Linked DNA regions of Homo sapiens: region 2 is linked to region 1. Evidence: fine-mapped expression QTL. A gene starts in region 1. The other region holds a variant in brackets. All regions are shown on one strand. Distances are from middle to middle. Region 1 holds the start of RCC1 (regulator of chromosome condensation 1). Region 2 overlaps TRNAU1AP (tRNA selenocysteine 1 associated protein 1).

Region 1 (11,599 bases):
CTCTACTAAAAAATGCAAAAAAAATTAGCCGGGCATGGTGGCGTGCGCCTGTAATCCCAGCTACTTGGGAGGCTGAGGTGGGAGAATTGCTGGAACCCGGGAGGTGGAGGTTGCAGCAAGCCAAGATGGCTCCATTGCACTCCCTCCTGGAGACAGAGTGAGATTAGATCTCAAAAAAAAAAAAGCTGGGCATGGTGGCTGACGCCTGTAAACCCAGCACTTTGGGAGGCCGAGGTGGGCGGATCACGAGGTCAGGAGATGGAGACCTTCCTGGCTAACATGGTGAAACCCCTTCTCTACTAAAAATACAAAAAAATTAGCCGGGTGTGGCGGCGTGCACCTGTAGTCCCAGCTGCTGGGGAGGCTGAGCTTGCAGTGAGCTGAGATTGTGCCACTGCACTCCAGCCTGGGCGACAGAGCGAGACTCCCTCTCAAAAAAAAAAAAAAACAAAAAACAAAAAATTGGATACTGTATCCTTGGTTTCTGAGAAGTCACAAAAGAATGTTATTTAATAAGTGATCATGCTGCTGCACTCCATCTAGAGACCCTAAGAATCTTTTCACAAATACCAACTCCTTTGTCCTTATTACAACTCTATGAGGTAGTTTATCACTTATTTTGTGAACATGAAATTGAGGCAGAGGGGCTGAGTAACTCACCCAAAGTCTCATGAACAGCAAGTGGTGGGATCAGGATTCAAACCCAGTCTAGTACTCCTAAGATAGGCAACCAATACTGTCTGCCTACACAAAGAACAAGGCCAGAAGTGCCTGTTTGGAAAGTCTAAAAAAGGGGTATTGCAAGCTGAAGTTTAGCAGAGTGGGACCTGAACACCTACTGACAGCTTTGCTTCACCTCTACCTTGCAAGTCAATAGAAATTCATTCATTTCCTGCCCAGCACTGCAGTTACCCAAACCCACCTGAGTATATGGATTGAAAACATACTAAAACCACTGGTTCAGAAAAAAATCACTTTACTCAGGTGAGATCTATGTAGTTACAGCAGGACACGGATGGGACTGGGCATACAGACGAATGGGGCTGACTCATCTGGCTTCTTCCTGAGCAGGGAATTTGATGCTTGTTTCTGCAGAGGTGCCACTTCTAGTTGTGGACTTGGACAATTAGTCTTTTGGTTCCTGGGATTCCCCATTGGAATATGCTGTATTAAAGCCCACTTAGTGCTTACCTAGAACAGTGCCTGGCACAGGTAAGCACAAATACAATTGCTTTAGGAAGATGCCTTTTTTTTGAGACTTAACTCTGTCACCAGGCTGGAGCGCAGTGGCAAGGTCTCAGCTCAGTACAACCTCCATCTCCCGGGTTCCAGCAATTCTGCCTCAGCCTCCCACAGGTGCACACCACCATGCCCAGTTATTTTGTATTTTTAGTACAGACAGGGTTTCACCGCGTTGGCCAGGATCTCTAGATGTTGTGATCCGCCTGCCTTAGCCTAAGTGCTGGGATTACGGGTGTGAGCCACCAAGCCTGGCTGCATTTAACATGCCCTCTTAAACACTGCCTCACTCCTCTTAGCTTGTAAGAAAAATCAAGCTGTGTTCCCCCACAATCATAGCTAGTAACTAGCTTCCATTCTCAAACCAACCCTGACCTCAACACCTTGGCAAGCAAGCTCTACAGTCCACCAAACTCCAATCTCACCCACCTCCCTCAAACCTGTCTCCATCAAGTTCCAAATGGCTTAACGGCTGTCCCACCTCCCCTATGCCAGTAGGTAACTTTACCTTCTAGATGATCCCCCTTCAGTCCCATCCTTCAGGGTACTGAACATTTATGTTGGCAGCCAGTGCAGGGGGCTTGACAAAGTTTCCATTGTGACTCACGTCATGAGGCAAGCAATTCTGGCAATCTTCAGGCGGAGGTGCGCCAGGTAGTAGAGGCTCATACAACTCATCAGCTAGGGATACAACCTCCCGTTGCTACCATCGATTTTTCCTCCACTACACTGCAGGAAGCTAAAGAATCGGTCTAACTCATCTTGCACTCAACCCAGACTTACGGTCCTATTGGTCAGGACCTAATATCCATTTTCCCAATAAACTGCCAATATAAAGTGAACCCAAGGGGGACCCACCTGAGACTAGGTTTCAGGGCCTTTAGAACTGAAGCTATCATGCTAGTTTCCTTCAACAGTACCATTCAGATTCTTGGCTGATGTCACCACAGCCACCTCCACAAAAATGAACCACAAACATGCAGTCGTATTTATTTTAATTCATAAATACATTAACATAGCAGATTAGGCAATTTGTTAGGTAAATTACAAATACATTAGAAATCATACAAAAGTGGCCGGGCAGGGTGGCTCACAGCTGTAATCCCAGCACTTTAGGAGGCTGAGGTGGGCGGATCACGAGGTCAGGAGTTGAGAACAGCCTGGCCAATATGGTGAAACCTCATCTCTACTAAAAATACAAAAATTAGCCAGGTGTGGTGCTACACGCCTGTAGTCGCAGCTACTTGGGAGGCTGAGGCAGGAGAATCGCCTGAACCTGGGAGGCGGAAGTTGCAGTGAGCAAGATCATGAAAAGCAAAATACTCAAGGACTTTTAATATAACCACCAACACAGTGTGCCTTCTGGCCAAGCAGAGTCACTTCTGTGGTTCTTAAAGTATGAATGAGGTGAAAGAATGTGCATTCCTAGCTAAATGCCAAATTCCAAAGCCTTTAGTACAAAAACAGCAGACTTTCTGCAAAACAGGTCGACTTTTAAAAGAGGTATGAGGGCTGGGCGTGGTGGCTTATGTTTGTAATCCCAGCTACTTGGGAGGCTGAGGTTGCAGCCAAGATTGCGCCACTGCACTACAGCCTGGGCGACAGAGCAAGACTCTCAAAAGGAGGCATGAAATGCACCTCAATCTTTTGCTCCAAGTCTGCCAAAGATTGTCAAACCCTCCCTGTTAAAAAAAAAAATCAGTTTACCTACTCTCCCTTCTATATAAAGGACCCTAAAATTAAATGTCAATGCCAAAATGCGAAGTGCAGATCGTCTTCTCTCCTAAAAGAAAAGAAATAATGATTAGACTCCTGAAGATCCTACTTCAACTTAAAATCTAGTATACTAGATATGTTTCCTGCATGGTTTGTCTCCCCAGTCATTGTCCACAGGACTCTGGGAAGCTGTAGGAATATGCAGGCGCAGACACGAGGCCCAGCTTCATCTTCAACGTTGTGGAAAGGGACTGTACATCATGGGGCAGAGCCCTAAGCTCCCCTATGCCACTTGGACAGAGCCTGGGGAGAGTGACCTCCCAGGGTATCCACGTTGGAATGCTCATTAGTGAGGAATTGGAGTAACCGACAAATCCAATATTGCTAATCACCCACAGTATTTTCAAGGGCTAGTATCTTTCTCAGCTCAGGCTACACATGTAGATAAAGCCAATTAGGCTTCCTACAGTTCACTAGGGCAGCTTTTACTACTTTGCACTTTTAATGAGCTGACTAAAAAAAGCAATTTTTACAGAACAGAGCATATGTTGAAGTTATGTCAACATGCCTACAAAAATGCAGCAAAGTCGATATTTGGCTATTGCTCTGAGAATGATTAAATGCCTCAGAGGTAAATCCTGACCAACTAGAATAAAAGTCTCTTCAATCCTATTTCCATTACAGAAATCATTGACAAAGAGCTGATAAGCAAAAAACAATTAGCAGATTTACTCACCAAATAAGAGTTACTTGGAATCCTTAACAAATCCTGCAAAACAAGATATTAATCTATTAGTACAGCAAAACCCTAAACTTTTTCAACGAGGGGCCTCATGCTATCGCCTGGGGTTGGAGTACAGTGGCACTGGAGTATAGGTTTGAGTATAGGTCACTCCTGGGCTCCAGCGATTCTCCTTCCTCCAGCTACCTATCATCATGCCTGGCTACTTTTTAGCCAATTTTTCTTAAACATGTATTAAGACTTCAATCCAGCCAGGTGTGGTGGCTCACGCCTGTAATCCCAACATTTTGGGAGGCCAGAGGCTGGCGGATCACAAGGTCAGGAGTTTGAGACCAGCCTGACCAACATGGTGAAACCCTGTCTTTACTAAAAATACAAAAATTAGCCTGGCGTGGTGGCGGGGGCCTGTAATCCCAGCTACTCAGGAGGCCAAGGCAGGAGAATCACTTAGCATAATCACTTGAACCCGGGAGGCAGAGGCAATGGAGTGCGCCACTGCACTCCAGCCTGGGCAACAGAGCGACTCCATCTCCAAAAAAAAAAAAAAAAAAAAAGACTTCAATCCAGATTCAGTGCTCTAGAAGGCTGTTTCCTGCATGGTTTGTCTCCCCAGTAATTGTCGACAGGACTCTGGGAAGCTGTAGGAATATGCAGGCGCAGACACGAGGCCCAGCTTTATTTCCAACGTTGTGGAAAGGGACTTGTACATCATGGGGCAGAGCCCTATGCTCCCCTACGCCACTTGGACAGAGCCCGGGGAGAGTGACCTCCCGGGTGTATCCACGTTGGACAATCAGTGTAACGCATAAATTTACAGAATCCAATAGGAAACAATTTCATCCATTCATGTTACTACAGATCTTAAACAAGAAAGCAAACGAGTTTCCACCCTGTCCACAGTGGGGTGTTAAAAAAAAATCGGTTTCTAGACTGGTAACATGCATATTCAGCTATTCTAATTACTTTACAATAGGCGGTTAGTACTATGTGGAAGGTACCGCAGAAGCAAAGACAACAATTAGGCCCAGCTATCCTAAATTCAAATGAAACACGTGGACTTGTTAATTACCCCCAAATCGGCCAGGCACGATGGCTCACGCCTGTAATCCTAAAAATATAAAAATAAAAATGACCCAAATCACAAAAATACGAGAAAGCATAATTACGAAACGCAATGCTTCCAAATTATGAAAATCTTCGGCCTGGCGTGGCGGACCACAAGGTCAGGCGTTGGAGACCAGCCTGGCCAACATGGTGAAATCCCGTCTCTACTAAAAATACAAAAATAAGCCAGGCGCGGTGGTACACGCCTGTAGTCCCAGCTACTCGGGAGGCTGCGGCAGGAGAATTGCTTGAGCCCAGCAGGCGGAGGTTGCAGTGGTGCGATCAAATAAAAAGAAAAATTGAGAAAATTCTTAAAGGCAAATGAGGATCCAGAATAAAACTGTGTGCAATTATATTGAGAACGACAATGTGCCTACTATGAGGCAGTAAGATAAACAGTGGGGGTGGCGGTGCACCTTCAGAGGCTCGCTGGGTCGGGCGGCAGCCCTGCGGGTCCCGAGGTCTCCATGGCCCACTTCTGGCCCAGGCCCGTCTAACGCGTACTTTAGAGTTGGGACCGATGCCGCCTAAGACACCCATATATAGTTTTAAATTACATGATTTCCGGCCAGGCGCGGTGGCTCACGCCTGTAATCCCAGCACTTTGGAAGGCCGAGGGTGGTGGATCACCGGAAATCAGGAGTTCAAAACCAGCCTGACCAACATAGCGAAACCCCGTCTCCACTAAGAATACAAAAATTGGCCGGGCGTGGTGGCACGTGCCTGTAATCCCAGCTGCTGGAGAGGCTGAGGCACGAGAATCGCTTGAACCCGGCAGGCGGAGGTTGCAACGAGCACTGCAGTCCAGCCTGAGTGACAAACCGACTCCGTCTCAAAAAAAAAAAAAAAGTAAATAAATAAAATACTATATGATCTTCCTAGGGAAGCTCGGCTACTGATCTATAGCATTAGACCCACAACTCCGGTGGCAAGCATCTGATCACACTTACCAAGGATCACACTTACCAAGGAGAAGAAGCGACCACTGCGAATCTGTCTCCAAAAAGGAGAGAGAAAACGCGAAGCATCCTTTTTAAACCTTACGAAGTGCCCGGAAGTCCTGGAATGTCTATTGCGCGTGCGCAGAAGCATGCGCAGTTAGAGAATCAGAAACTCACTGAGGCTTCTGGGAATCTACTGCAGATTGAGCCCCACCCCTTCCTGGCTGGGAGGCCTCTCGCGGTAGTGGATCCTTCCCGCGGGACCTTGCTGGGGAATGTACGTTACAGAAATAGGTTTGTAGGTATGTAGCTGCAGAGGACGTTTACTTCTGTGCAATCACTGGACTCAGTCTGTAGGATATGCCCTTAGATAAACTGGCCAAAAAGTTTTTGGAAGAGTCGAACGCGGTGGCTCACGCCTGTGATTACAGCAGCTCTGAAGGCCGTGAGGGGCGGATCGCTTGAGGCCAGGAGTTCGAGACCGGCCTGGGCATCATGGCGAAACCCCGTCTCTACAAAAAATACAGAACATAAGCCAGGCATGGTGCCGCGCACCTCCAGTCCCAGCTACTCGGGAGGCTGAAGCATGAGAATCGTTTGAACCTGGGAGGCGGTGGTTGCAGTGAGCCGAGATCGCGCCGATGCACTCCATCCTGGTCGACAGAGCGAAACTCTCTCTCCAAATAAATAAGTAAAACGTTGGAATAATAAGAATGCAGAATGAAAAAAATACATATAGAGAAATACGGAGTATCAAAAGGAATTGAATCTGCTCTGTCACCTGTGAAAGAAATAATTTGATAAATGTGAAGGTAAATAAGATGAAAGTGCCCCTAGACGAATCAGATAAAAGTTTAAAAACTCCAGGCCTGGCCCGGATAAAAATAAATAAAAATAAAAAATAAAAAACTCCATTGCACAACAGTGTGAATGAATGTAATTAAAAGCACTGCCCTATACTCTTTCTTTTTTTTTCGAGATGGAGTTTTGCTCTGTCACCCAGGCTAGAGTGGAATGGCGCGGTCTCGGCTCACTGCAACCCCGGCCTCCCGGGTTCAAGCGATTCTCCTGCCTCGGCCTCCCCAGTAGCTGGGATTACAGGCGCCCGCCACCGTGCCTGGCTAATTTTTGTATTTTTAGCAAGACGGGGTTTCACCATCTTGGCCAGGCTGGTCTCGAACTCCTGACCTCAAGCAATCCACCCGCCTCGGCCTCCAAAGTGCTGAGATTACAGGCATGAGCCAGCGCACCTGGACTTTTTTTTTTTTTTTTTTTTTGAGACGGAGTCTCGCTCTGTCGCCCAGGCTGGAAGGAAGTGGTGTGATCTCGGCTCACTGCAACCTCCACCTCCCAGGTTCAACCAGTTCTCCTGCCTCAGCCTCCCGAGTAGCTGGGACTATAGGCATGCCACCATGCCCGGCTAATTTTTGTATTTTTAGTAGAGACCGGGTTTCACCATGTTGGCCAGGCTGCTCTCGAACTCCTCACCTCAAGTGATGCCCGCCTTGGCCTCCCAAAGTACTGGGATTACAGGCCTGAGCCACCACACCTGGCCCCCTATACATTTTAAACTAGTTAAAAATGGCAAGTTTTATGTATATTTTACCACACACAAAACCCTCTGAATATGAAGTAGGCAAGTAAAGAATGCTTACGATATATATACATAAGAAATGTTGCAAATATGATGGAATTTTTAGTGTGGTGTAAGGTGGAAAAACGTTGGCTAGAGAGACAGAGCTATCACAGCTGGGCTATCTTGAGTAGTAACGTTTATGGTGTTCCTCCTACATATTAGATTTTGTTCTGAATGCTTTATTACGTACATTATTTACTATCGCAGCAATTCTTTTTTTTTTTTTTTTTGAGATGGAGTCTTGCTCTGTTGCCCAGGCTGGAGTGCAGTGGCTCGATCTTGGCTCACTGCATTCTCTGCCTCCTGGGTTCAAGCAATTCTCCTGCCTCAGCCTCCCGAGTAGCTGGGACTGCAAGCAAGTGTCACCATGCCCCACCAATTTTTGTATTTTCAGTAGAGACGGGGTTTCACCATATTGGCCAGGGTGGTCTTGAACTCCTGACCACGTGATCTGCCCGCCTTGACCTCCCAAAGTGCTGGGATTACAGGCATGAGCCACCGTGCCCGGCCTACAAATTTTTTTTTTTTTTTAGATGAAGTCTCACTCTGTCCCCCAGGCTGGAGTGTAGTGGTGCGATCTCGGCTCACTGCAACCTCCGCCTCTCAGGTTCAAGCAATTCTCCTGCCTCAGCCTCCTGAGTAGCTGGGATTACAGGCGCCCGCCACCATGCCCAGCTAATTTTTGTATTTTTAGTAGAGACGGGTTTTCAGCATGTTGGTCAGGCTGGTCTTGAACCCCTGACCTCATGATCCACCTGCCTCGGCCTCCCAAAGTGCTGGGATTACAGGCTTGAGCCACTGCGCCCGACCCCGGCCTACAAAATTTTAAAAAAAATGTTAGCTGAGTGTAGTGGCACATTCCTGTAATCCTAGCTACTTATGAGGTGTGAGGATCACCTGAGCCCAGGAGATGGAGGCTGCAGTGAGTCGTGATCATGCCACTGCACTCCAGCCTGGGCAACAGAGCAAGAACCTATCTCAAAAAAAAAAAAAAAAAAAAAAAAAAAAGACATTTCTGATGTAGGGTTTGTCGTCCCACTGGAATTGCAAGGTAAGAGAAGAACTTGAGGATACCAGAGTTTCAGGCTTAGGAGGCTGAACATACTATGGTCTCTAACCTTGATAAGTGGAAATGCAGGCAGTGGGGGAGGAGTAATGTCCACATTGGAGTATATACGAGTTACCTGAGTAACATCTGGTTGTATATAAGTCCAAAGAGCAATTAGATATATGGGGTTGGGCTTCCTGTAAGAAATCTGAGTTGGTGATAAAATATTTAGAAGTTGTAAGAATTAGCATGGTGGCTAAAGTCGTCTTGGAAGAATGAGGAGAGTGATGGGAAGACATGAAACCCCAGCATTTATTTTATTTTGAGACAAGATCTCGCTCTGTTGTTGAGGTTGGAATGCAGTGGTGTGATCAGGACTACTGCAGCCTGGACCACCAGGGCTGAAACGATTCTCTCACCTCAGCCTCTTCTGAGTAACGGGAACTAGAGGCATGCACCACCATGCTCAGCTAATTTTTTAAATTTTTGGTAGAGATGGCCTCTCACTATACTGCCCGGGCTGGTCTTGAACTCCTGGCCTGAAGCGATCTGCCAATCTTGGCCTCCGAAAGTGCTGGGATCACAGGCATGAGCCACCACACCCGGTAAAACACAGCATTCATTTATTTTATTTTATTCATTTATTTTTGGATGGAGTCTCACTCTTGTCACCCAGGCTGGAGTGCAGTGTTGTGATCTTGGCTCACTGCAACCTCTGCCTCCCGGGTTCAAGCAATTCTCGTGCCTCAGCCTCCCAAGTACCTGGGACTACAGGCACATGCCACCACACCCAGCTAATTTTTTTGTAGTTTTAGTAGAGATGGGGTTTCACCATGTTGGCCAGGTTGGTCTCGAACTCCTGACCTCAGGTGAACCACCTGCCTCGGCCTCCCAAAGTACTGGGATTACAGGCGTGAACCATCGCACCTGGCCGAAAACCCAGCATTTAAATGGTGTTCGAGGAAGAAGCCAGCAGCACAGAGAAAGGTCAGTCAGGGAAGGAGAACCAGAAGACAGCGGTGCCTCAGAAGCCAAGGAAGAAGAGTTTTGAGGACTAGAACATTGTCCAAAGCACCAAATGTTGCAAAGCAGCCAAGTGCAATAACCGAAGGCTGAGAAATCCCTGGTGACCACAGGAAAGCCATATTGGTTTGGATTTCGTTTAGATTTTAATGAGCTGAGTGAATATGGCCTTAGGTAGGGAAAACAATGTGCACAGACCAGAGGTTATGAAGCAAGGCCAAGAAGCCTGTTCAGTTTACATCTCCATCACTAGTTCTTCCTCTGTCAATCATTTAGCCCAGCTGCCTGGCCTGAGAACTTGGGTTGTTTAACATTGGAATAGATTGTGTGAAGGGAGTATAGGAAAAGCAGGAGAGAGGGTAATAGATTGAAGAGAAATTGGGGTCACGGGAAGATTGTGTCTTTGTTGCGGGTGAGGGTAGGAAGGAGGTAAGCATTAAATAATTTATTTAATGCTCCCCCTCCCACAATCCTCACTGAGGACTGTGTGTCCTCAGTGCCAAATGAAGGAACATTAAAGCTGTTTGTTCCTGTCAGATGACCTCTATGCTCTACATAGGAGGCAAAATTCTTTGGGGAAGAAATTAACAATATCCACACAAAATGACAGATGGAGCAAGAGGTCTGGGTTGCTGGTCATTCCTGGTTTTCCCTTCATGCCTCCTAGGGCTGAAATGGAATAGAACGTTGAAACAGTGGTGCTGGCTGTATTTTGGCTTCAAGGATAGGATTTTCTTTGTTGCACATTGTCATCTTTTTATGCTTATTATTTCATCCTTTGCCTATTCAGTGTCCATTGGACCTGCTCCTCTTTTTTCAAGAGACAAGGTCTATGTTGCCCAGGCTGGTATTGAACTCCTGGGCTCAACTGATCCTTCCACCTCAGCTTCCCAAGCTGCTGGGACTACAGGTGTGCATCACTGCACCGGGCTGGACCTGCCTTTTCCTGGGGTACAGTTATATAAATCCACAGAGACCCAAAATTCATTCATTGTTTTGGCAAACACTGGGCAATCTTCATCTTCAAAACAGCTTTCTGGAGACAATTTAACCTCAAAAGGGCAATAGCAATTTGAGGCTTCTTTGGAGGGCTAGTAGAAGGACAATCTGGAAGCAGGTGGACACAAGGAGTTCTGACTCATGGTTTCTTTTAACTCTTGGTAAAGGGTGGTGCACTAAACAAGGCCAGTCTCTTAAGTGACAAATAGAAGTGAGTCATTGCTGAGGCCACCTGGACTGAAACTGGGCTGCTTGCTGGAAAAGATAACATGAAGTACTAAGTGTCCTGGGCCGGGTGCAGTGGCTCATGTCTGTAGTCCTAGCACTTTGGGAGGCTGAGGCAGGCGGATCACCTGAAGTCAGGAGTTCCAGACCAGCCTGGCCAACATGGTGAAACCCCGTCTCTACTAAAAATACAAAAAATTAGCCGTGGGTGGTGGCAGACGCCTGTACTCCCAGCTACACAGGAGGCTGAGGCAGGAGAATTGCTTGAATCCGGGAGGCAGAGGTTGCAGTGAGCCGAGATCATGCCACTGCACTCCAGCCTGGGTGACAGAGCAAGGCTCCGTCCTGGGGAAAAAAAAAAAAAAGAAAAAGTACTAAGTGTCCTTTTGTAATGTCATCTTGGGGGTCCAATTATATGTGGTTAATATAAATTCTTTTTTTTTTTTTTTTGAGACGGAGTTTTGCTCTTGTTGCCCAGGCTGGAGTGCAGTGGCGCGATCTCAGCTCACTGCAACCTCCGCCTCTTGGGTTCAAGTGATTCTCCTGCCTCAGCCTCCCGAGTAGCTGGGATTACAGGCATGTGTCACCACGCCTAGCTAATTTTGTATTTTTAGTAGAGATGGGGTTTCTCCCTGTCGGTCAGGCTGGTCTCAAAGTCCTGACCTCAGGTGATCCGCCTGCCTTGTCCTCCCAAAGCGCTGGGATTACAGGTGTGAGCCACTACACCTGGCTTACATATCATTTTTAAGCTGGATTTAATCTTTTGGGATAGAGTGTAATGTAAAAGAAAATACCTCACACCAGAATAGTATAGTTGGTATTTAAAAATTCTAAAATATTTAATAATTAATATTGATGAGAAGACTGATATACAATGCAATTATTTATTTTACAAGGAGATTCTATACATCAGGGAGGCATCTTGA
Region 2 (12,408 bases), 67 kb before region 1:
CATTGAAGGCATCAGAGGGCACCGTGGGCCACAAGGCCTGGTAGCCACAAATGTTCAGTGGTGGCTGGAGCTCATGATGCATTCTTTGGTGGGACGTCTCTCAGCATTAGGGAGAGTTGAGAGTGGGGTAGAAACAAGGGGTTCCATGTAGCACACACTGTATTTAGAATGACTGGTCCAGGATGAAACCTAATTTGAGTGGACATCCATGGATGAGAAATGCGGATATGGGACTGAGACCAGCTCCTAGGAAAATGTCTGGGTGGGGGAAATCTGGGAATTAGTAACACAATGGCTTACACTTCCTTTGCAGGACAATCTCTATGGGAAGCAGAAGGCAAGGACCCCGGTCATTTTAGGTAGAAACAACAGCATGCTAATGCAAAAAATTATGCAGTGTGCTACTGAACTTCAGAGGTGATCAATAAAAGAAGAATAAAAAGACTAATAAAAGTATATTTGTGTTTGTATTTTTTTGTAGAGACCGAACTGGTCTCTTCCCGAGCTCAAGCAATCCATCTCCCAAAGTGAGCCACCATGCCCAGCCCTTAAAGAGATCTTTGGAGATTTTTTATGATGTAGGATGAATGCTTTGCCTCAAGCAGTAAGTCCCAACACATGACAAGGTTGGACAGTTTCCCCATTTACTTGGGAAACACGGAAGTGAGCAGTATAAAGTTCACACGGAGGGTCTGCTTTGGCTTTGAGCTATCTTCCTTAATCCTTTCTGAGCTGCCTTCTCCCGTGTCAAAATATTGATCCTAAAGTGATCCAGGCCTTGTATATGCAGATGCTGCAACTCATGAAAATAGATGAAACCCATTATTAGAGCAAGTACTAATTCTTAGGCCAACTGGCCTGTTCCATCACACCCCACCACATTCTACCTTCTGGGGCGTGCTCCTACCACACCTGCTAGAGTGCCTTTTCTACCTAGCTGCCAGACTTGCACCAAGTTAGGACTCAAATATGGCAGGTCCTACAAATACTCCAGAGAACCCTGATTTACATACCTACCTGTCAACTGAGAAACCTTGAACTCAGGCTTTAGTGTGTGAATTATCCCAAGCTGCTCATCCCAGTTTTGGATAATCCCAAACTGTCCTATGTGGATAACTACCTGGACAAAGGATTCCTGTGAAGGAAACCAATTTGAACCTTGTTTAAAAGTTGTTCCCTTGGTCTTCAAACTCAAATGGTCAAATGAATGCAGCAGTGTTGTAGAAACATTCATGATCTCCAAAAACAGTCATTATTAAAATCTTACAAATCATATTTCCAAAAAGGTTTCACAATTTTTAAAAAGGAGTCTCTCATCTCCCTCACATCATGCAACCTGGCTTGTCCTTTGGCCTGGCTACATCATGGCAGGGATCTCTGAAGACACTGTGTCCAGGGGCTGCCAGTGACAGTCCATCAGAGCGTCATACAGCTCCTCACTCTGTTCCATGAACTCCTTGTTGGCCTCAGTCACATCCAGCTGTGGCATGGGGTCTGGAAAGCAAGCAAGGATGGGGTCAGGGAAGTCTAGGGACAGCTGCAAGGGACCTGGTTCAGTTCCCTTCTCCCAGAACTCTGTTCTATGGTAAGGTCCCTATCCTGCCAGTTTCTTTCAGGAAGTGAAAGCACTGCCTTGCAGGGTTCTGGGGAAGATGAAAATAGAATAATGTATCTAGAGAATGGGAAAATGGCAGCTGTTAGCCTGCATCTATTAAAAGCTACACCTGTGTCTCTAGCCATCATGTATCCTAGATTTTCTGGTCTGGTCCTCACTTCAAATTTGGGTTTAGAAGGTCTGATCAAAGTTATTAAGTCCAGAGCATCATCTCAAGAACTGACAATAAGTGCATAGTGGAAGAACTTCAGTCAAATATAGGAGCTGAAAGGCCAAGTCCTGTATGTATGTATGTGTGTGTGTATGTACTTTAGAGAAAGGGTCTTGCTCTGTCACACAGGCTAGAGTACAGTGGCACACTTACAGCTCACAGCAGCCTTGAACTCTTAGGTTAAAGTGATCCTCCCGCCTTAGCCTCCCAAAGTACTGAGATTACAGGCATGAGTCCCTGTCCCTGGTGGTAAAATACTATTAAAAATTTTTTCTGCACAGTGGCTCATGCCCATAATCCCAGCACTTCAGCAGGTCGAGGCGGGCAGATCACCAGAAGTCGGGAGTTCAAGACCAGCCTGACCAACATGGAGAAATCCCATCTCTACTAAAAATACAAAATGAGCCGGGCATGGTGGCACATGCCTATAATCCCAACTACTCGGGAGGCTGAGGCAGGAGAATTGCTTGAACCCAGGAGGTGGAGGTTGCGGTGAGCCGAGATGGCACCACTGCATTCCAGCCTGGGCAACAAGAGCAAAACCCCGTCTCGGCCGGGCGCGGTGGCTCACGCCTGTAATCCCAGCACTTTGGGAGGCCAAGGCAGGCAGATCACAAGGTCAAGAGATCGAGACCATCCTGGCCAACATGGTGAAACCCCGTCTCCACTAAAAATAGAAAAATTAGCTGGGCGTGGTGGCAGGCACCTGTAGTCCCAGCTACTCGGGAGGCTGAGGCAGGAGAATCGCTTGAACCCGGGAGGCGGAGGTTGCAGTGAGCCGAGATCACGCCATTGCACTCCAGCCTGGGCAACAGAGCAAGATGCCATCTCAAAAAAAAAAAAAAAATTAGCTGGGCATGGTGACCTGTGTCTGTAGTGCCAGCTACTAGGGAGGCTGAGGCAGGAGGATCACTTGAGCCTAGGAGGTCGAGGCTGCAGTGAGGCATGTTCACATCACTGATCTCAAGTCTGGGCAACAAAGTGAGACTCTGTCTCAAAAAAAAAAAAAAACTGGGCACTGTGGCTCATGCCTGTAAACCCAGCACTTTGGGAGGCCGAGGTGGGCAGATCACAAGGTCAAGGGATTGAGACCATCCTGGGCAACATGGTGAAACCCTGTCTCTACTCAAATACAAAAAATTAGCCGGGTATGGCAGTGCACGCCTGTAGTCCCAGCTACTCGGGAGGCTGAGGCAGGAGAATCACCTGAACCCGGGAGGCAGAGGTTGCAGTGAACAGAGATGGCACCACTGCACTCCAGCCTGGCGACAGAGCAAAGACTCTATCTCAAAAAAAAAAAAAAAAAAAAAAGCCAGGCGCAGTGGCTCAAGCCTGTAATCCCAGCACTTTGGGAGGCCAAGGTGGGCGGACCACCTGAGGTCAGAAGTTTGAGACCAGCCTGACCAACATAGAAACCCCATCTTTATGGGGTTAGAAAAATAGAAATAGAAAATTAGCTGGGCATGCGAGATTGCGCCACTGCACTCCAGCCTGGGCGACAGAGCAAGACTCCGTCTCAAAAAAAGAAAAAAAGAAAATTAGCTGGGCATGATGGCGCATGCCTGTAATCCCAGCTACTCGGGAGGCTGAGGCAGAAGAATCACTTGAACCCGGGAGGCGGAGGTTGCAGTGAGCTGAGATCGCGCCACTGCACTCCAGCCTGGGCAACAAGAGTGAGACACCGTCTCAAAAAAAAAAAAAACAAAAAAAAACATTGGGCCTGGCGCAGTGGTTCACACCTGTAATCCCAGCATTGGGAGGCAGAGGCGGGCGGATCATGAGGTCAAAAGATAGAGACCATCATGGCCAACATGGTGAAACCCCATCTTTACTAAAAATACAAAAATTAGCTGGGCGTGGTGGCGCGCATCTGTAGTCCCAGCTATTCAGGAGGATGAGGCAGGGGAATCGCTTGAACCTGTGAGGCAGAGGTTACAGTGGGTCGAGATCGTGCCACTGAACTCCAGCCTGGTGACAGAGCAAGACTCTCAAGAAAAAGAAAACAAAAAAAGGATTAAAAAGAGATTGGAAAATTCTAAGGACTTATCTACAGATATTATGAGGCTAATTATCTCTAGAAAGAAGGCAATGTCTCCCAGGGGGAAACAACTAGAGACTTGAATATAAAAAGACCGGACTGTCCTGACTTTGCCCCACACTGTGTGACCCTCAGCAGATCACTTGGGCTTTCCGAGCCACTAGTTTCCCATCTGTGAAATGGAGCTCCTGTGTCCTTCCCAGCCCACCCCACAAGGTCACTACAGTTGGCATCACATGAGAGGACACAAGAAAGTGCTTTAAAATGTTATGAACTAGACAAGTTTGTTCATGCCCTAAAAGGGATCTGTTTCCTTTAACGAACATTTTCTTGACAGAAAACATTTTCCCTATGACTTTCTCTTGAAGACGAATCCTCAAAACAGATTTCAAACTTTGAGTCTTTTTGTACCTCAAAAAAAGTTTTGGCCAGGAGCAGTGGCTCATGCCTATAATGCCAGCACTTTGGAAGGCCGAGATGGGCAGATCACTTGAACCTAGGAGTTCAAGACCAGCCTGGGCAACATGGTGAAACCCTGCCTCTACAAAAAAATAGAAAAAAATAGCCAGTTATGGTGGGGCACAACTGTAGTCACAGCTCACTGAAGCCTCAACCTCCTGGGCCCAAGCAATCCTCCTGCCTCAGCCTCCCCCAAGTAGCTGGAACCACAGGCCACCATGCTTGGCTTTCAGTTTTTCTTTCCTTTTTCTTCTGTGAAATTCAGTGAAAATTATAAATACTTGGCCGGGCACAGTGGCTCATGCCTGTAATCAAAGCACTTTGGGAGGCTGAGGCGGGAGGATTACTTGAGGTAAGGAGTTCGAAACCAGCCTGGCCAACATGCTGAAACCCTGTCTCTACTAAAAATACAAAAATTAGCCGAGCGTGGTGGTGCATGCCTGTAATCCCAGCTACTCAGGAGGCTGAGGCAGGAGAATCACTTGAACCTGGGAGGCAGAGGTTGCAATGAGCTGAGATTGGAGACTGCACCACTGCACTCCAGCCTGGGTGACAGAGCAAGACTCCGTCTCCCAAAAAAAAAAAAAAAAAAAGAGATGGGGTCTCGTTATGTTGCCCAGGCTGGTCTCAAAGTTCTAGGCTCAAGCCATCCTCCAACCCACGTTGGCCTTCCAAAGACCTTACAGGCTTTAGCCACCGTGCCTAGACAGTAAATACTGTTGTTTTTTTTTTTGAGACGGAGTTTCACTCTCGTCACCCAGGATGGACTGCAATGGAGCATTCTTGGCTCACCGAAACCTCCATCTCCCGGGTTCAAGTGAGTCTCCTGCTTCAGCCTCCCAAGGAGCTGGAATTACAGGCATGGGCCACCATGCCTGGATAATTTTTTTTTTTTTTTGAGACAGAGTCTTGCACTGTTGCCCAGGCTGGAGTACAGTGGTATGATCTCGACTCACTGCAACTTCCGCCTCCCGGGTTCAAGTGATTCTCCTGCCTCAGCCTCCTGAGGAGGTGAGATTATAGGCGCGCAACACCACGCCTGGCTAATTTTTTTATTTTTAGTACCGGCAGAATTTCACCATGTTGGCCAGGCTGGTCTAGAACTTCCGACCTTAGGTGATCCTCCCGCCGTGGCTTCCCAAAGTGCTGGGAGTACAGGGGTGAGCCACCGCGCCTGGCAATTTTTTTATTTTTAGTAGAGACGGGGTTTCACCATGTTGGCCAAGATGGTCTCGATCTCTTAACCTCATGATTCACCCTCCTTGGCCTCCCAAAGGGCTGGGATTACAGGGGTGAGCCACCGTGCAAGGCTTAAATATTTTTAATTAAAAAATTAATAATGGGCTGGGCACGGTGGCTCACCCCTGTAATCCCAGCACTTTGGGAGGCGAGGCAGGCGGATCACGAGGTCGAGTTTGAGACTAGCCTGGCCAAGATGGTGAAACCCCGTCTCTACTAAGAATACAAAAATTAGCTGGGCGTGGTGGCATGTGCCTGAAATCCCAGCTCTTCGGGAGGCTGAGGCAGGAGAATCACTTGCACCCGGGAGGCGGGCTTGCAGTGAGATGAGATTG[C/T]GCCACTGCATTCCAGTCTGGGTGACACAGCAAGACTCTGCCTCAAAAAAAAAAAAAAAAGAAAAAGAAAAAATTAATAATGGCTATTACTATGTTGTAATAGGATATGGGGTGATTTTCAGTTTCATTATACTTTACTATATTTTCTTTTTCTTTTTTTTTGAGACGGAGTCTCGCTCTGTCTCCCAGGCTGGAGCCCATTGGTGCGATCTCGGCTCACTGCAAGCTCTGCCTCCCGGGTTCACGCCATTCTCCTGCCTCAGCCTCCCGAGTAGCTGGGACTACAGGCGCCCATCACCACACCCGGCTAATTTTTTCTATTTTTTAGTAGAGACGGGGTTTCACCGTGTTAGCCAGGATGGTCTCGATTTCCTGACCTCACAATCCACCTGCCTCGGCCTCCCAAAGTGCTGGGATTAGAGGCGTGAGCCACCATGCCTGGCCCATACTTTACTATATTTTCCAAATTTTCCATCCTAACGATGACTTAAAAATCAGGAAAATATGTCTTTTAAAATATATTGAAAAACAGAAAAAAAATAAAATAAATAAAAAATGAATTTTACAAACAGTCAAACAAATAAAAGGTAACAGTATTATCGGCCAGGCACAGTGGCTCATGCCTGTAATCCCAGCACTTTGGGAGGCTGAGGCGGGCGGATCACCTAAGGCTGAGAGTTTGAGACCGGCCAAGCCAACATGGAGAAACCCTGTCTCTACTAAAAATACAAAATAATTAGCTGGGCATGGTGGTGCATGCCCGTAATCCCAGCTACTCGGGAGGCTGAGGCAGGAGAATTGCTTGAACCTGGCAGGTGGAGGTTGCGGTGAACTGAGATCATGCCATTGCACTCCAGCCTGGCCAACAAGAGTGAAACTCCACCACACACACACACAAAAAAAGGGTAACAGTATTATCGTTAGAGGCCCACATACCAGGATAGAATGCCACATGTCAAGGGGGTGATGGGCTCTCCTGGAGCTGCCTGTCCCAGGCTCTCTGGGATCTACACTTACACCTCTGGGTAACACCCGACACATCTTACCATAATTACATATTTGTCTGGCTCTCTAACCAGAATGTAAGTTCTTCCAGAGCAGAATTTATCTTGTCTTCCCTCTAGCTGAGAGCACAGTGCCAGCCACAGCAGTCACCTGATAATGGCTGACAGAGTAAGGAACGTATGAACCCTTACCTTCCAATGCATCATCTCCAACTTCTTCATATGTCTGCCAAGAGACCAGAGATGTGGGTTAGGGGCATGGTGAAATCCTGGCCCAGGACCACAGTGGCTTATATTTTTTATTTTTTTTGAGGTGGAGTCTAGCTCTGTCACCCAGACTAGAGTGTAGTGGCGTGATCTCGGCTCACTGCAACACCCGCATCCCAGTTTCAAGAGATTCTCCTGCCTCAGTCTCCTGAGCAGCTGGGATTATAGGCGCCTGCCACTATGCCCAGCTAATTTTTTGTATTTTTAGTAGATACAGGGTTTCACCATGTTGGCCAGGCTGGTTTTGAACTCCTGACCTCAGGTGATCTACCTGCCTCGGCCTCTCAAAGTGCTAGGATTACAGGTGTGAGCCACTGGGCCCTACCCACAATGGCTTATTTTTAACAAGAGGAACTGGACTGCTTCAACTTTCCCTATTTTTTCTGAAGCCCAAGCCCCTGTCCTTACCAATCCCATCCTAGAGAATGACCTGTTTCTAGAGGAGAAACACAACCCAAGGGGACCAGTCTTGCCAAGTCATGGTTACCTGCATGGTGCTCTGGGTATAGCCATACTGGGGGTAACTGTAGCTGTAGCTGCCTGTGTTCTGGTCATAGCCCCACTGAGCATAGTAGTTCTGGTACTGCTGATAATACTGGTTGTAGCTATAACTGTACATCTGACTATATTCCACTGGCTTTACACGGCTCCTTAAATGAAGACAGAAACAAAAATAAGTGTAAGCAAACATTTCCGTAACACTGCCTATGTGGCCACAGACTATTTTAAGTGCTTTATACCGATTAACTTTTTTTTTTCTTGAGACAGAGTCTTGCTCTGTTGCCTAGGCTGGAGTACAGGGGCGCAATCTCGGCTCACTGCAACCTGCGCCTCCCGGGTTCAAGCGATTCTCCTGCCTCAGCCTCCTGAGTAGCTGGGACTACAGGTGTGTGCCACCACGCCTGGCTAATTTTTTGTATTTTCAGTAGAGACAGGGTTTCACCATGTTAGCCAGGCTGGTCTCGATCTCCTGACCTCGTGATCCGCCTGCCTCAGCCTCCCAAAGTGCTGGGAGCCCGGCCACCAATTAACTCTTTTAATCCTCAAAACAACCATATGCAATAAGTGTATCATTATTCCTATTTTACAGATAAGGAAACTGAGGAACAGAGAGGTTAAGTAATTTGTCCAAAGTCACACAGCTAATATGAGAGTATGGCTCCAGAGACCATGCTTTTAATACAGGAGATTTTAATGGATAGGTTTGTCTCTCTTAACAAACTATGTCAGGACTGGCAAAAGGATATCCTGTTTAAAAAAAAAAACAAAACAAAAAAGGGCTGGGTGCGGTGGCTCACACCTGTAATCCCAACACTTTGGGAGGCGAAGGCAGGTGGGTCACCTGAGGTCAGGAGTTCCAAGACTAGCCTGGACAACATGGTGAAACCCCATCTCTACTAAAAATACAAAAAATTAGCTGGGTGGGATGGCGCGCCCGCAATCCCAGCTGCTTGTGAAGCTGAGGCAGGAGAATCGCTTGAACCTGGGAGACAGAGGTTGCAATGGGCCTAGATTGTGCCACTGGACTCCAGTCTGGGCAATAAAAGTGAAACTCTGTTTCAAAAAAAAAAGAAAAGAGACAGACGTGGTAGCTCACGCCTATAATCCCAGCCACTTGGGAGGCTAAGGAAGGAGAATCGCTTGATCCTGGGAGGCCCAGCTAATTTTTGTACTTTTAGCAGAGATGAGGTTTCACCATGTTGGCCAGGGTGGTCTTGAACTCCTGGCTTCAAGTGATCCACCCAACTCAGCCTCCCAAAGTGTTGGGATTACAGGCGTGAGCCACAGCACCCCGCCTTTTGTTTTCGTTTTTTTTGTTGTTGTTTTGAGAGAGTCTTGCTCTGTCGCCCAGGCTGGAGTGCAGTGGCGCGATCTCGGCTCACTGCAACCTCCGCCTCCTGGGTTCATGCCATTCTCCTGCCTCAGTCTCCCGAGTAGCTGGGACTATAGGCGCCCACCAGCACGCCCGGCTAATTTTTTTTTTTTTTTTTTTTGGTATTTTTAGTAGAGACGGGGTTTCACCATGTTAGCCAGGATGGTCTCAATCTCCTGACCTTGTGATCTGCCCGCCTCGGCCTCCCAAAGTGCTGGGATTACAGGCGTGAGCCACTGCACCTGGCCTTTTTTTTTTTTTGAGATGGAGTCTCACACTGTCACCCAGGCTGGAGTGCAGTGGCACAATCTTGGCTCACTGCAAGCTCTGCCTCCTGGGTTCATGCCATTCTCCGGTCTCAGCCTCTCTGAGTAGCTGGGATTACAGGTGCCCGCCACCACACCTGGCTAATTTTTTGTATTTTTAGTAGAGACGGGGTTTCACCATGTTAGCAAGGATGGTCTCGATCTCCTGACCTTGTGATCCACCCACCTCGGCCTCCCAAAGTGCTGGGATTACAGGCATGAGCCACCACGCCCAGCCTATTTTGTTTTTTAAGAGACACGGTCTCACTCTGTTGCCTGGGCTAGAGTGCAGTGGAGTTATCATAGCTCATTGTAACCTTGAACTCCTAGGCTCAATCAATTCTCCCACTTCAGCCACCAGAGCAGCTGGGACTAGAGGAGTACACCAAGCCCAGCTAATTTAATGTTTTTATATAATAATTTATTTACAACAAATAACATTTTTGGGAGAAGTCACTAAGCCTGATCTTCAATGTATTAAACACAGTTAAACCATAAAGAACCCCTAAATCATTGCTTTCAAAAACATGGCTATTTGGCTGGGCGCAGTGGCTCACGCCTGTAATCCCAGCACTTTGAGAGGCCAAGGCAGGCAGATCACCTGAGGTCAGAAGTTCAAGACCAGCCTGATCAACATGTGAAACCCTGTCTCTACTAAAAATACAAAAATTAGCTGGGCTTGGTGGCACATGCCTGTAGTCCCAGCTACTCGGGAGGCTGAGGCAGGAGAATCGCTTGAACCTGGGAGGTGGAAGCTGAAGTGAGTCAAGATCACGCCACTGCATTCCAGCATGGGCAAAAGAGCAAGACACCATCTCAAAAAAAAAAAAAAAATAGTTCAACTACTCTTAGGGTAGAGTTTCTCAGCCCTGGATCTATTGACGTGGAGGGGTGGGTGGCTGTCCGATGAATTGCATGATGTTTAACAGTATCCTTGGCCGATACCCACTAGGTGCCATTAGTACATCCTTGGTTGTGATAACCAAAAATGTCTCCAGATGTTGTCAATGTCCTCTGGGAGGCAAAATCACTCCAGTTGAAAATCATTAATTTGGCTAAAGGATAAAAGATCTGGCCAGGCACAATGGCTTATGCCTGTAATCCCAACACTTTTGTAGGCCAAGGTGGGCAGATTGCTTGAGCCCAGGAATTCGAAACCAGCCTGGGCAACAAAGCAAGACCCTATCTCTACAAAAAACACAAAATTTGCCTAGCATGGTGGTGTGCACCTGTAGTACCAGCTAATCAGGAGGCTGAGATGGGAGGATCCCGAGCCTGGGGAGGTCGAGGCTGCAGTGAGACATGATCTCCAGCCTGGGTGACTTTGAGATCCTGACTCAGGGAAAAAACAAACAAACAAAAAATCCCATTCAGAGAAAAGTTTGGAGTTGTAAGGGAAGAAGATTTTCTACCTAGCATGACAGGTGTGATAGTGAAGTATATAATGTTCTGTAGAGTGTCTGGAAAATTTTTCTTTTTTATTTGAGACGGAGTCTTGCTCCGTTGCCCAGGCCAGAGTGCACTGATGCCATCTCGGCTCACTGCAACCTCCGCCACCCAGGTTCAAGCGATTCTCCTGCCTCAGCCTCCCGAGTTGTTGGGACTACAGGCATGCACCACCATGACTGGCTAATTTTTGTATTTTTAGTAGAGATGAGGTTTTGCCATGTTGGCCAGGCTGGTCTCGAACTACTGACCTCAGGTGATCCGCCCACCTCAGCCTCCCAAAGTCCTGGGGTTACAGGTGTGAGCCACTGCGCCCGGCCAAGTGTCTGGAATACTAATTCTTATCCATTCCCACAGCATGGAACACTCATAGGAGGGCTGTAGTTTCATTAATATAAATAAGGCTAAAAATGGAAGTAATTTTTTCCCCTTTATTCAAATCTTATTAATTCTATGAATAAGTTCCCAACAATGGGACTACTGGGCAAAGAACAGGGACATCAGGTATGGACAGCCAAACAGCTTTTCCAATGCTGTCACCAGTAATGTCTGAATACATCAGCCTTTCCAAATCATACTCTATCCCCAACTCTAAGTTTCTGCAGGAGTGGGGCTAGTTCAACCCCAGCACCCACAGCCTGGCAAACAGCAGGCATTCAGTACTTGTGACTTGAATTGGATCCCCTTCAGCCTCCCATCCAGCGTATGGATGCCCTGATTCTCAGCAAACAAAAGAGGAGTGTCTGGAGGGGAGTCTAGAGTCTCTCTACCTTCCCTGCAGGACTCACGCTTTAGGGATTGCCACGCTCAGCCGCACAGGCTTAGACCCCAGTCCCACTGCTCCCTGGCACTCCGTCAGGGCTCGCTTCTGTTCCAGTTCATCTGTGAATTTCACAAAACCATAACCCCTGCATGAAAAAAATATACAATTTAGATCACAAATGTGATTAAAGTCTAAGAATGGACACATGAAAAAGAAGTAAGGATAAGAAGGTGGGCAGGAATGTAGAAAGGAAAAGAGGCTGAGAAGAGAAAGAGAGAGTCCATTAAACTAGAGGAAGAAAGGAGAGTCCCATCAACAGGTGTCCACATAGTGTCAAGATCCAAGTACAAACAATTCTAATATCTGCAGGAATTCCCACATTCAGTTCACCATCCTCCTCGACACCTTCACCCCTAGGGAACATTCCCAAATAGGAGCTTCCCCGACACCCTGCTGGAAAGTAACTCATAGAAGAAAATTCAGCAAATATTTACAGTCTGCCCTGTATGCCAGGCACTGTGCTACGCACAGGATGCAGCAGTCACAGAAAGACAACGTTCCTGCTCTCCTGAGCTCAAATTCTAGCAGAGGAATAAATTAATGCAAGCTAACATTTAATAAATATTTATTTCCCTAGCACTGCGCAGAGCATTTTCTCTCTCTTTTTTTTTTTTTTTTTGAGATGGAGTTTCACTCTTGTTGCCCAGGCTGGAGTGCAATGGCGTGATCTCGGCTCACTGCAAGCTCCGCCTCCCATGTTCACGCCATTCTTCTGCCTCAGCCTCCAGAGTAGCTGGGACTACAGGCACCCACCACCATGCCCAGCTGATTTTTTGTATTTTATTTTTTTAGT

The links.
Region 2: its variant is fine-mapped to the expression of RCC1 in whole blood (TOPMed, PIP 0.95).

The regions. Positions count from the first base shown.
Region 1 is chr1:28,500,253-28,511,851 of GRCh38, reverse strand. RCC1 (regulator of chromosome condensation 1) reads right to left here and starts at 5,809. Exons shown (of 13, transcript NM_001381865.2): 1 at 5,768-5,809; 2 at 3,692-3,724; 3 at 2,947-3,022. SNHG3 (small nucleolar RNA host gene 3) reads right to left here and starts at 5,909. Exons shown (of 4, transcript NR_036473.1): 1 at 5,768-5,909; 2 at 5,525-5,632; 3 at 3,692-3,724; 4 at 960-3,022. It overlaps SNORA73A (small nucleolar RNA, H/ACA box 73A), which reads right to left and starts at 4,487; the gene lies at 4,281-4,487. It overlaps SNORA73B (small nucleolar RNA, H/ACA box 73B), which reads right to left and starts at 3,294; the gene lies at 3,090-3,294. It also overlaps PHACTR4. RefSeq lists enhancers at 1-61, 543-592, 1,453-1,672, 3,744-4,509, 4,701-4,995 and 1 more.
Region 2 is chr1:28,566,586-28,578,993 of GRCh38, reverse strand. It overlaps TRNAU1AP (tRNA selenocysteine 1 associated protein 1), which reads right to left. Exons shown (of 9, transcript NM_017846.5): 6 at 11,581-11,700; 7 at 7,656-7,818; 8 at 7,094-7,127; 9 at 449-1,494. The coding sequence ends at 1,358. It overlaps SNHG12 (small nucleolar RNA host gene 12), which reads left to right. Exons shown (of 6, transcript NR_146382.1): 6 at 314-456. It overlaps SNORD99 (small nucleolar RNA, C/D box 99), which reads left to right and starts at 172; the gene lies at 172-251. The variant C/T (reference allele first, on the strand shown) is at 5,898.